Linked DNA regions of Homo sapiens: region 1 is linked to region 2. A link means that fine-mapping ties the variant in region 2 to the expression of a gene that starts in the linked region. Tissue or cell type: whole blood. Region 2 holds a variant in brackets; the other region holds the start of a gene. All regions are shown on one strand. Distances are from middle to middle.

Evidence for each region. PIP is the estimated chance that this variant, and not a neighbour inherited with it, causes the effect.
Region 1: it holds the start of CHSY1, and the variant in region 2 is fine-mapped to the expression of CHSY1 in whole blood (TOPMed, PIP above 0.99).

What each region holds. Positions count from the first base shown.
Region 1 is chr15:101,249,953-101,255,099 of GRCh38, forward strand. CHSY1 (chondroitin sulfate synthase 1) reads right to left here and starts at 2,096. Exons shown (of 3, transcript NM_014918.5): 1 at 1,185-2,096. The coding sequence starts at 1,504. RefSeq lists silencers at 1,081-1,510, 1,701-2,010, 2,181-2,560.
Region 2 is chr15:101,147,814-101,152,960 of GRCh38, forward strand. LRRK1-AS1 (LRRK1 antisense RNA 1) reads right to left here and starts at 4,026. Exons shown (of 3, transcript XR_001751724.2): 1 at 3,907-4,026. The variant A/G (reference allele first, on the strand shown) is at 2,508.

The DNA.
Region 1 (5,147 bases), 100 kb after region 2:
GCAGTCACTGAAGACCACTTTCACCTTCTTTCTCAGTCCTTTACTTTCTCCCTTAAAGGCAAGGGAGACCATATATGCTTTTCCCCTCACAACATCTAGTGCCTGAAAAATCTGACCAAGACTGCATTTAAAAACTGAAGTGTAAAGGTATTGGTTATAAGAACAAACAGCAACCAGCTTAGCCTGGCTCAGCACTGGCTGCTCTGAAATTTCATTACCAGACAACTGATGCTCTAAAACCATTCCCCACATTGGTTTGCTCTGTGGCTGGATAAGACCCAAACTTTATCCATACAGTAAGTGTCTCTATACTTCACACATATAGGGTTTCCATCAAATCCCTTTATCGAGTCTACAACCCTCTCCAACTTCAAATTCACTCCAATACAAATCTGATTCTAACCATGCCAGCCATTCCAAAATCATCTCCCTTCTAGAGACTACATTGGCTAATCCCTTTGTTAAACCTGAACACAATTCCAGCTGCTTTTATGACTCATTTGGCCAACTAGAGCCCAGTTACTGGATAACATGCATACACCACCAAGCTGAACTAATTAACACCAGAATGCAGTTTTCCACTGAATCTACCAAGGGCCAAGAACTGCTTTTCCCCAAGGTTCTCTCTCTCTGTACTCAACAGACTGGTGTGGTCCAATATGCTGCGGGCATTCTCTTTCATTTATAGGAGTGCCTCCAACTGCGAAATGTGAGAGTATGATGTGGAAAGGTTCTAGAACTAGATTAACGTACACGGGCTCCAGCTTTGCAAGGACAAAGGTGCACATTTTAGGGAATCCAGTATCAGCCCCAACTGCCTCCACTATCAGGTACTGTGCTATGAGTTTTCCAACATTATGAGGGAGACCCGATCTGTCGGGCCCTTCTAACGAGAAGCTTCGATTTGCAAAGGCTAAAGTGCCTTCATCAGGGTGAGAGGTACACCCAGCGAGGCCACACTAGTCCATCTGACCCCAAAGGCCATGTTCCTGAGCGCCGCGCTCACCATCCCGCCTCTGATCTTTTCTCCCTCGGCCCGGCGTCTCCCGAGAGGCAACCCGATCCCGCCGGAAGCCCAAGAAGGGCCTAGGAAGCGGGCGGAGGCGAGAGCCAGGAGAGCACCCGGGATGCCGGCCGCCGGGATGCCGGACGCAGGAGGCGGTGCCCGGGGAGCAGGGGCTCACCTGTAGGCGGCCACGGCCCGAGTCTGCAGGTATTTCTGGGCGGTCATGACTCCCACGAAGAGAAAGTTCCTGTCGCGCGGGCCGCCATCTGGGTCCGAGCCGGGCGGCCAGAGCTGCGCCCCGCGCGCATCGCCGCGCGCCCCGCCGGCCTGGGAAGCCGCCGCCTGCCCGGACCGGCAGCCCTCGGGGCTGGCGCGGCGCCGTGGGCCCGCTCGCTTCAGCTCGGAAGCCCGGGGCAGGACGAGCCGCGAGGCCAGCACGAAGCCCAGGACGAGCCCGAGCAGCACGCTGAGCCAGGCGCGCCGGCCGCGCGCGGCCATGCCCGCGCCGCTCCGCCCGCCGGGCCGCCGCCGCAGGCTCCGCGCGCCCTCAGCCCGCTGCCCCCGCCCGCGGAGGCCAGCCCGCCCTAGCGCCGCGAGGCCCGGCCCGGGCAGCGCCGCCGCCGCCGCGGGCCCGCCGCGCCCATCGCGGCCCCCGAGCCGCCCGCAGGCCCCGCGCCGGCGCTTTGTTCCGCACGCCCGCCCCCGCCGCCGCGGCCTGCGCCTTTAAGAGGGGACCATGCCCGGCGCGCGCTAGCGGCGGCTCGGGCGCGAGGTGGCGGCGGCTCCTCCCGCTCGCGCGCGGGGACGCGGGGCCGGCACGACGGCGACGACGGCGGCGGCAGACGAGTCCGGGCTCCCGTCCCGCCCTGCCCGCGTCCTCCGGCTGGCTGGGCTCGGTTCGCACGGCGCCTGTCCCCGTCCTCTTCGTAGCCGGCGCCGCCGCCGCAGCTGCACATCCTCCGGCTTAGCTCGCCATTGCAACAGGAGCCCCTCACGTCACGCACGGCGCGTTATGAAGTGGCCCCGCCGGCGGCGAGCCGTGGCCCCTCTCGGGATCCGTCCGCGCCGCGCGATTGGCGCAAAAGTGAATGAGGGGCGGTTCACGTGGCCGAAGTTTGACCAAAAAAAAAAAAAGCCCTCTCGGGCGCCCCGCCCGCGCGGTCTGCGACTGGAGCTGGCGGGCGGAGGGGGCGTGGGCCCCCGCCCGGCGCCCGCGGGGCCGGAGCTGCCCGTGATCCGCACCTAGCACCCGGCGCAAGGGCGTCCCCGCGAGGACGGCCGCTTCCCGCACCGCGGCGCCCGGGCGCGAATCTCGGGAGCCAGCCTTGCAGTGGGGGCTTCTCGGCCCCCAGACTCCACGCTGCGCACGTTCCTCCCGCACGGGCCGTCCTCGCTGCACCCCACGGCCACGCCCTTCCTGCCGCCGGGCCGGCCCCGCGCTCCCGGCCCCGCGCTCCCGACCACACTGCAGCTTTGTCCGCAGTCCCGCGGCCGCACGCAGGGAACAGCCGTCCCGGAGCCCTGGGGACGTGCGCGCCTGCGAGTGGACCGTGAATTCAGTTACCTTGTTCCCTGTTGCTAGTTTCTACGCTAAATAAGAAGAAGAAGAAGAAAAAGCCATCTTTAATACTTAAGGTCCACGCTTCTCATACAGTACTAGCATTTAATGGATCTCGAAGACAAGGAAAATGAAGTTAATGCCCTGGATGGTAAACCCTACTTTCATTTACATACTGTGTGGGCAGATAGCCGGCTAGTACCCCCAGCCTGGGACTTTGTCCCTACTTTAATATAGTCCGTCTGTAAAAGTGCCGTGGATTTCTAAAGACGGATTTTGGGTCCCAGATCCTCTACTCTGGATTTTAAGTTTTATACATTTCCTCTGCAATACTTCAGCTAAGGCAGCAAAAGCGGAGGTCTCCATACAACGAAAGTTTGTGTAGAGTTTCAGTCTTGTTACTTAGTCACCAGTATATTGGGGTTTTCTAATGAAACTTTTGAAGGGCAAAGTGTTTCCCTGGGCCTGAGAAGTTACCTGCATTGAATCAAATAAACACATGCCTGGGGCAATCCTTGGATCTTTCTTCATTGTTGACCAAATGGTTGAAATACTATCACACAGTTTAAAATGCCTGTGGGAGCTTCAGATACCTTCTCGGCACCTGAATGGTGGTCACTCTTGTTTATTCTTTGGATATTACCACTTTCTTTGACACTTGTGATTTATATTAAAAATAGTTCATTACCTACCTTCCCACAGAGCCCCTCCCTAAGGGGTGATCCACATCTAAAAATAAAATACTCATTATGCAGTGAATACAGGATTCCAGCAGTGGTCTTGGGAAAAATACAGAACATACAACCATGAATTACAGGCTCGAAAACCATCGAAAAAGGTTTCCACTAAGACCATAAACCACAAATGCCGAGGAGTCACCAGATCCCCCAAATTCAGCAGCCCCATCATTCACAGTGATTTACATGAAGTACGAATCTGGCCAGATTCAGATGTTCAATTTTGTAGCATATTCAACGATTTCAGTATTTTCTAACCTGCTTTAGACTTACCTAGTTTTCTTCGAAACTAGTGTCCAGTGAAAAGCTGGCCGGGCGCGGTGGCTCACGCCTGTAAACCCAGCACTCTGGGAGGCTGAGGCGGGCGGATCGCCTGAGGTCAGGAGTTCGAGACCAACCTGACCAACATGGAGAAACCCCGACTCTACTAAAAATACAAAATTAGCCGGGGGTGGTGGTGCATGCCTGTAATCCCAGCTACTCGGGAGGCTGAGGCAGGAGAATCGCTTGAACCCGGGAGGTGGAGGTTGCTGTGAGCCGAGATCGTGCCATTGCATTGCACTGCAGCCTGGGCGACAACAGCGAAACTCCGTCTCAAGGAAAAAAAAAAAAAAAGTATATAAATATCTGATGGGAATAATATTCTGAGGATGCCAAATATTTTGTCCTCCTCAATATCCTGGTTCCTAGTTGTCCCTCAGTTCCTAGGTTAACAGTCTCACCTGTCTCACCTGCAGGCTTAATGGGGGTCTTTCGTAATGTAGAAAGGATACCCTTTTCTTTGTAAAGGCTGAGCCTGAGGGCTTACAATTCCCTGGAGAAGGAGAGTAAGACATACGGGAACTCCCTCTGGGAGAAGAGGGATATGCCAGGCCAAGAGAGGGTTGGAAGGAGAAGAGAGAAACTGAGGTCCTGTAGAAGTCTGCCAGGGGCAGGGACCAATTCCGGCATGCAGCCTAGGAGCAGGAGGGCAAGCTCTAGCACATCTGGAAGGAGCAGCTGGATTGTTGAGCTGAGGCAGTTCTCCTGGGGAAGAATCCAAAAGTGTCCCAGTAAGGGGCCTGGCTCAGGAGACAAGGCTATCCTAAGTGGGGATTTCACAGCCAGTAGCAAATACCTGGAATCAAGAACTTCAGTGACAGCCAGAGACCCAAACAGCTGGACAGGACTGGTACCCCCAGTATGAAGGCCTGTCCCATGCCCAGCCCCACTAGTCAATACCAGCAAGGAGCCAGGGAGGACAACGAGGGTCTGGAACATCTGCCCCCAATGCACACACATGCGTCCTTCCCCACAGCCCCCTGGAGGCCAAGGCTGTCCTCATCCTAAAGCCCCCTCACCCTAAGTAATTTTTAAAGGTAAGGAGTAGGCAGGGTGATTCGCATTTATAGGGATTTCACTGCAGGGAGCTGAGGAAAGACTTTTCATGTTCCGGGCTTCTTGATTTCACTGTGCTACTGGCCTTCTCTGTTGAGGGAATCATTGACCATTTTTCTCATCATAAAAGAAGGGGAGGTATTAACTGTTACCAGGAACACTTGTAAGGAAGCCCTTAACTGTAGTTATTCCATGAAAGTCCCAATGGCACAGGAGTGGCCCAAGAGGTGGGCTGTGATGGATCAGGGATCAGGAGTGTGGGACCGAGTCTGAGCTCTGCGTGGAGTGAGTTCCACCTGGAGGGGCTCCGGGAGTCCGGCTCTGTCTCCAAATGAGTCTTTCTGCTGGATCACGTTAAACGGTCCTCCATAGTGATTCCAGACCAGTATTCAGAAATGTGTTCAAAAATCCCAGATCACTTAACTTCCCTTCTGTGTTCATGAGTGTGACTCTTTATGACACATTATTA
Region 2 (5,147 bases):
GGCGAGATGCTCACACCTGTAGTCCCAGTGTTTTGGGAGGCTGAAGTGGGAGGATCGCTTGAGCCCAGGAGTTCAAGACAAGCCTGAACAACACAGTGAGACTCTATCTCTACAAAAAGTTTAAAAACCTAGCCAGGCGTGGTATGCAACTGTAGTCCTACCTACTTGGGGGGCTGAGGTGGGAGGATCGCTTGAGCCCAGGAGGTCAAGGCTGCAGTGAGCTATGATTGCAACCACTGCACTCCAGCCTGGGCAACAGTGTGAGATCCTGTCTCTAAATGTAAAAGATAATCGACCAAAGTCACCTGTCTGGGGATCAGCAGTGCTAGGATGCAGTCCCAGGTCTGCTGGCTTTGGAGCCCCACTCTGCCCCCAGCCCCAGCCTGTAGGTTTCTTCTGGTGGGCGCGTGTGTATGTATTTGTCGTCTCACAACATGAAAAGCCTGTACATTCTGGCTCTGGAGTCAGACTGCCTCCCTCTGAGCCCCGGTTCCACTGCTCACTGGCTGTGTGACCTGGAGCAGGTTTCTTGACCTCTCTGTGCTTCAGTTTCCTCATCTGTAAAATGGGAGTAATGAGAGTGGCATCTACCACAGAGCTGGGATGGGGAAAGTCCTGTGTGAGCTATTTTTATTTTTGTTGTTGTTGTGGATGCTGGAGTGGGTGGAGGAGCCTCTGAGCCTGCACAGCTGGGAGGGGCAGTCCCAGGAAAGCGTCCGGAACCCTGCTGACCTTCGGAGCCCCCAGAACCCACTTCAGCGGAGGCAGGCGTGGAGGGCAGCGGTGTCGGGCTCTGACACCCTAGACGCTGTCCTCCCAGGAAGTGGTTTTGGTTTTATCCCACTTTTGGTCTGAGTGAGCAGACAGGCCCTTTTGGGCTCCTGTCCCCAAATAGCCTCCCACCCTGTATCTGAGGGAAAGTGAAACTGTCCACCCTCAGGTCCTGATCAGGTCCCTGCTGAGGCCCTGACCCCCCTCTGAGGTGCTCGGAAGAATGGGCTTGGATTCCGGCCAAGCACCCAGAGAAAGGTCAGCCGCGCTTGCTGGATGCGAGTGGGTCAGGGGCCCTGCTAGTGTGGGGACAATGGATCCCTCAGCCCTGGCCCGTGGGGCTCTGTCTGCCCATGGAAAGGCCCAGACCCCAGTGGGAAAGGTTCTGGGCTGGCGGCCTGGGGGTGCCCTGCACTGCCTGCCTGTCCTTGGGGCTTTATTGCCACTGGACTGGGCGTTTCTGTTGTTTCCCTGAGGGCACCTTTCTACCTACACCTCCAGCCCTCAGGGCCTGACCACCCTAGCTGGGCTTCCAGCCTGAACTGAGAGGCCCACCTTCCCAGGGCACCCTCTGGGCCTGACCAAGCCAGTCTTGCCTGCGACCCCTGAGAGGCCAAAGCAAGGCCCTGGGTACATGAGGCTTCCCGACTCTGCTTAGAGAGCACCGGTTGCTTCATTCCCCCCTACCTAAAGTGTGAGCTCTAAGATGGCAGAGGCAGGGTCTGAGACAGTCAGAGCCCCCATAGCTCCGTGCCAGGTCCCAGGTCCCCAGACCCAAGCCCACAGCAACAAGCACAGAAACCGGTGGTGTGGAAACAGTCCCCAGACAACCTTATCAGTCAGATAGCATAAAGCCTTCCTGTCTGCTCCAGCCTGGCCCCGTAAAAACAGAGCTGCTGATTAGAGCCTTCCAGACACCAAGACTGGAGCCCTTCACGGGCTGGAGAGACATTCTGGTGAGCTTTTCCTGCCCCACTCTATCTTTAAAAATTACGAGGGGTCAGGCACTGTGGCTCACGCCTGTAGTTCCAGCACTTGGGGAGGCCAAAGCAAGAGGACTGCTTGAAGCCGGGAGTTGAAGACCAGCCTGGGCAATATAGCAGGATGCCATCTCTAATAGATACATGTATTTGGGATTTTCCAAATTAGCACCTGTCCTTGAAAAGAAATTTGATGCTGTCTTTTTAAAACCATAAAAATATTCATCATTTACCCAGAAATTTCATTTATGAGAATGTAGCTTAAGGAAATAATGGAAAGGAAGGACTAAAGTACTAGTTAAAGCTACCCACTGCTGGGTCTGTCTAGAACATCTAACCTGACCCTGGAAATGACCCCATGCCCAACATCAAAAGGACGGCTAGGTTAGCGCACGGCAGCCCACCCGCACGGCTGTATTAGTGCACGGACGGCTGCTAAGGATGGCTATATTAGTACACGGCTGTATTATGCACTCGACGGGGTCCTGGATGGCTGTTAAGAATATAAGTGACCAAGGTACACAAGCGGCCTGTGCCCAGCGGGCGTGCAACGTGCCTGCATGTGACCAGGCATGAGGGCACATGTCAGGATGCTGGGATTGCAGCTCACACTCCCTCCTGGCCCCTTTTCTTGCTTTCATTCTTTTCTTTCTCTCTTCTTTCCTTTAACTGAGGCCACAAGGACTTCTGCCTGTCCTCAAGAGGCTGGGAAGACAGCCTCCGAGTGGCACCTTCTGGCACGTGGAGAGAGGAGGA[A/G]ATGCATGAAACCACTTCCCAGCTTTCTTCCTCATTTGCAAACCCTTGCTCTTCCTCTCAGCTCCTGTGAACCCCAAAACAACAACAAAATAGCATCGTCGTCATCATCATCGTCACCATCGTCATTGTCGTCAAACCCAGAGCCAAGCTATACTTCCTCCCCAGTGAGTCCACGTTTCCCTGCAGGCCCTGCCCTGAGACCCCAGCTCCGGAGAGACCTGTCACTGGAAAGTGTCTCGGAAGCCAACTCCACCACTCGCTGGGGCTTTCCTTCCCTTCCTCAGGGGAGCAGAGGAGCTAATTGTCCAAAGGCCAAGCCACCTGCTGGGTTGCCCAAGGAATACAGGCCAGTCCAACCGGGGACAAGCACGTTAGACAGAAAAATAAAATTCCAGATCCAAAGGGGAAGCTGACAGCAGTGCATCAGGGGCACACCCACCCAGGGTGGACAGCAAAGTAGGCACAGGGGGCTCCACGGCAAGTCAGAGCTGAGTGTTCCTGGCAGGTGTGGGCCAGGAACTTGACCCAGAGCTCGCTACCCAAACATCCAAGTCACTGCCTGCTCTGGGTGAGGGGGTGCTTGGGACCACAGCTGGGGGAGGATCCTCAAGCACAAAACCAAAAAGCACCAACCCTAAGGACAAGATCGACCAGCCTGACCGCGTTACATTTATGAACTTCTGTTATCAAAAGACACCATAAAGGCCGGGTGCTACGGCTCATGCCTGTAATCCCAGCACTTTGGGAAACCAAAGCAAAGGGATCACTTCAGGCCAGGAGTTCAAGATCATCCTGGCCAACATGGCGAAACCTCATCTCTACTAAAAAATAAAAAATAATAAGAATAAATAAAAAATAAAAGTAAAAAAAGACGTCATAAAGAGGGAAAAGACAAGTCACAAGCTGACAATATTTCAACAATAATGAGCAACACAGAATTTGTATTCAAAATACAGAAAGAACCCCGCTAATCTAATAAGGAAAAGATAAACAATATAATAGGAAAATGAGCAAAAGACTCAGAGGGGCATTTACAAATGAGGAAACTCAAATTGCAAAGACGTGAAAAGCTGCTTAGCCTGAAATGCAAAAGAAAGTCAAGAGGAGAATGGGAAGCAACAGGAAATACATACCTGTCCTGAGAGGAAGCACATCTGCTGTCGGGCGTAACCACAGTGAAAACGCTGCACACGGGCACGAAAGGACAGAGAGTGTCTGTACAGCACGGTCCAAAACACAAAACACTGGCCATGGTCCAAAGAACCCTCAAAAGTAAACTCAACTATTTTTTAAACTGTACAGTCATTCAATGGAATCTAACATTCATTCAATGGACGCATGTGTCAAAAATCATAATTTTGAGCAACAGTGAGGAGAACACAGAATTTAAAAAGAATACCTGCAGCCAGCCAGAATGACCACCCGAAAGAGGCCTGCAGTCTCAGCAATCCGGGAGGCTGAGGCGGGAGGATCACTTGAGCCCAGGAATTTGAGACCAGCCTGGCCAACATACCAAGACTCCATCTCTACAGAAAAAAAAAAAAGAAAAAGAAAACTTAGAGGGTGTAGTGGCACATGGCCATAGTCCTAGCTACTCGAGAGGCTGAGACGGGAGGATCACTTGAGCCCAGGAGTTCCAGGTTGCAGTGAGCCAAGATTGTGCCCCTGCACTCCAGCCTGGGTGACAGAGAACGATCCCAAATCAAAAAATAGAGAAAGAAAAGAAAAATAACAAAAAGAATACCTTGAATCTGATCTTATTTATATAAAGTACAGAAATAAGAAAAACTCTATAATGCATTAATCTGAGATGCATATGTTCACAGATGGTAAAGGCATAAGTGTTCATTTCATGACTACTACTATTTATTTATTTATGTATTTAATTTTTTTGAGATGGAGTCTCACTCTGCTGCCCAGGCGGAGTGAATGGCGTGATCTCAGCTCACTGCAACCTCCGCCTCCCGGATTCAAGCAATCCTCCTGCCTCAGCCTCCCGAGTAGCTGGGACTACAGGCACGCACCACCACACCCAGCTAATTTTTGTATTTTCAGTAGAGACGGGGTTTCACCATGTTGGCCAGGCTGGTCTCGAACTCCTGACCTCAGGTGATTCACCCACCTCAGCCTCCCAAAGTGCTGGGATTACAGGCGTGAGCCACCGCACCTGGCCTACACTACTACTATTTAAACTGGACCTAAAATGATGTCTGTGCAGTATAAAACACCGCACCATTGTTTGTGATTGAAAAGGCTGAAATGACTTGTGTCCATCTGTAGGAACTGGCTCAATAAACAAAGATGCATTAAGGTTCATTGTGCAAAAGTTAAACAAAAACAACCACTCAGTAGAGGCTGTCTGCATAAACAGACCCGGGTATATTGACAAGTGTGAGAAATACAACCAAGCGTAGAACAGGCCGGGTCGCATGCTTTCCTCTTCTACAGGCAATGAGGAAAATAAGAACACTGTCTTGTTTGTCTTTGCCTGTTTTTGCTCACAAACCCAGGGTGACCGTTTGTCCTGTCTCAGTTGGTGCCTGCCTTTCTGGCACAACTTGATCACACCTTTCACTCTTAGCAAGGTCCTGGTTTGAAGGATGAATTACATGGGCCACCCTACTCAAAACCCACTTCACC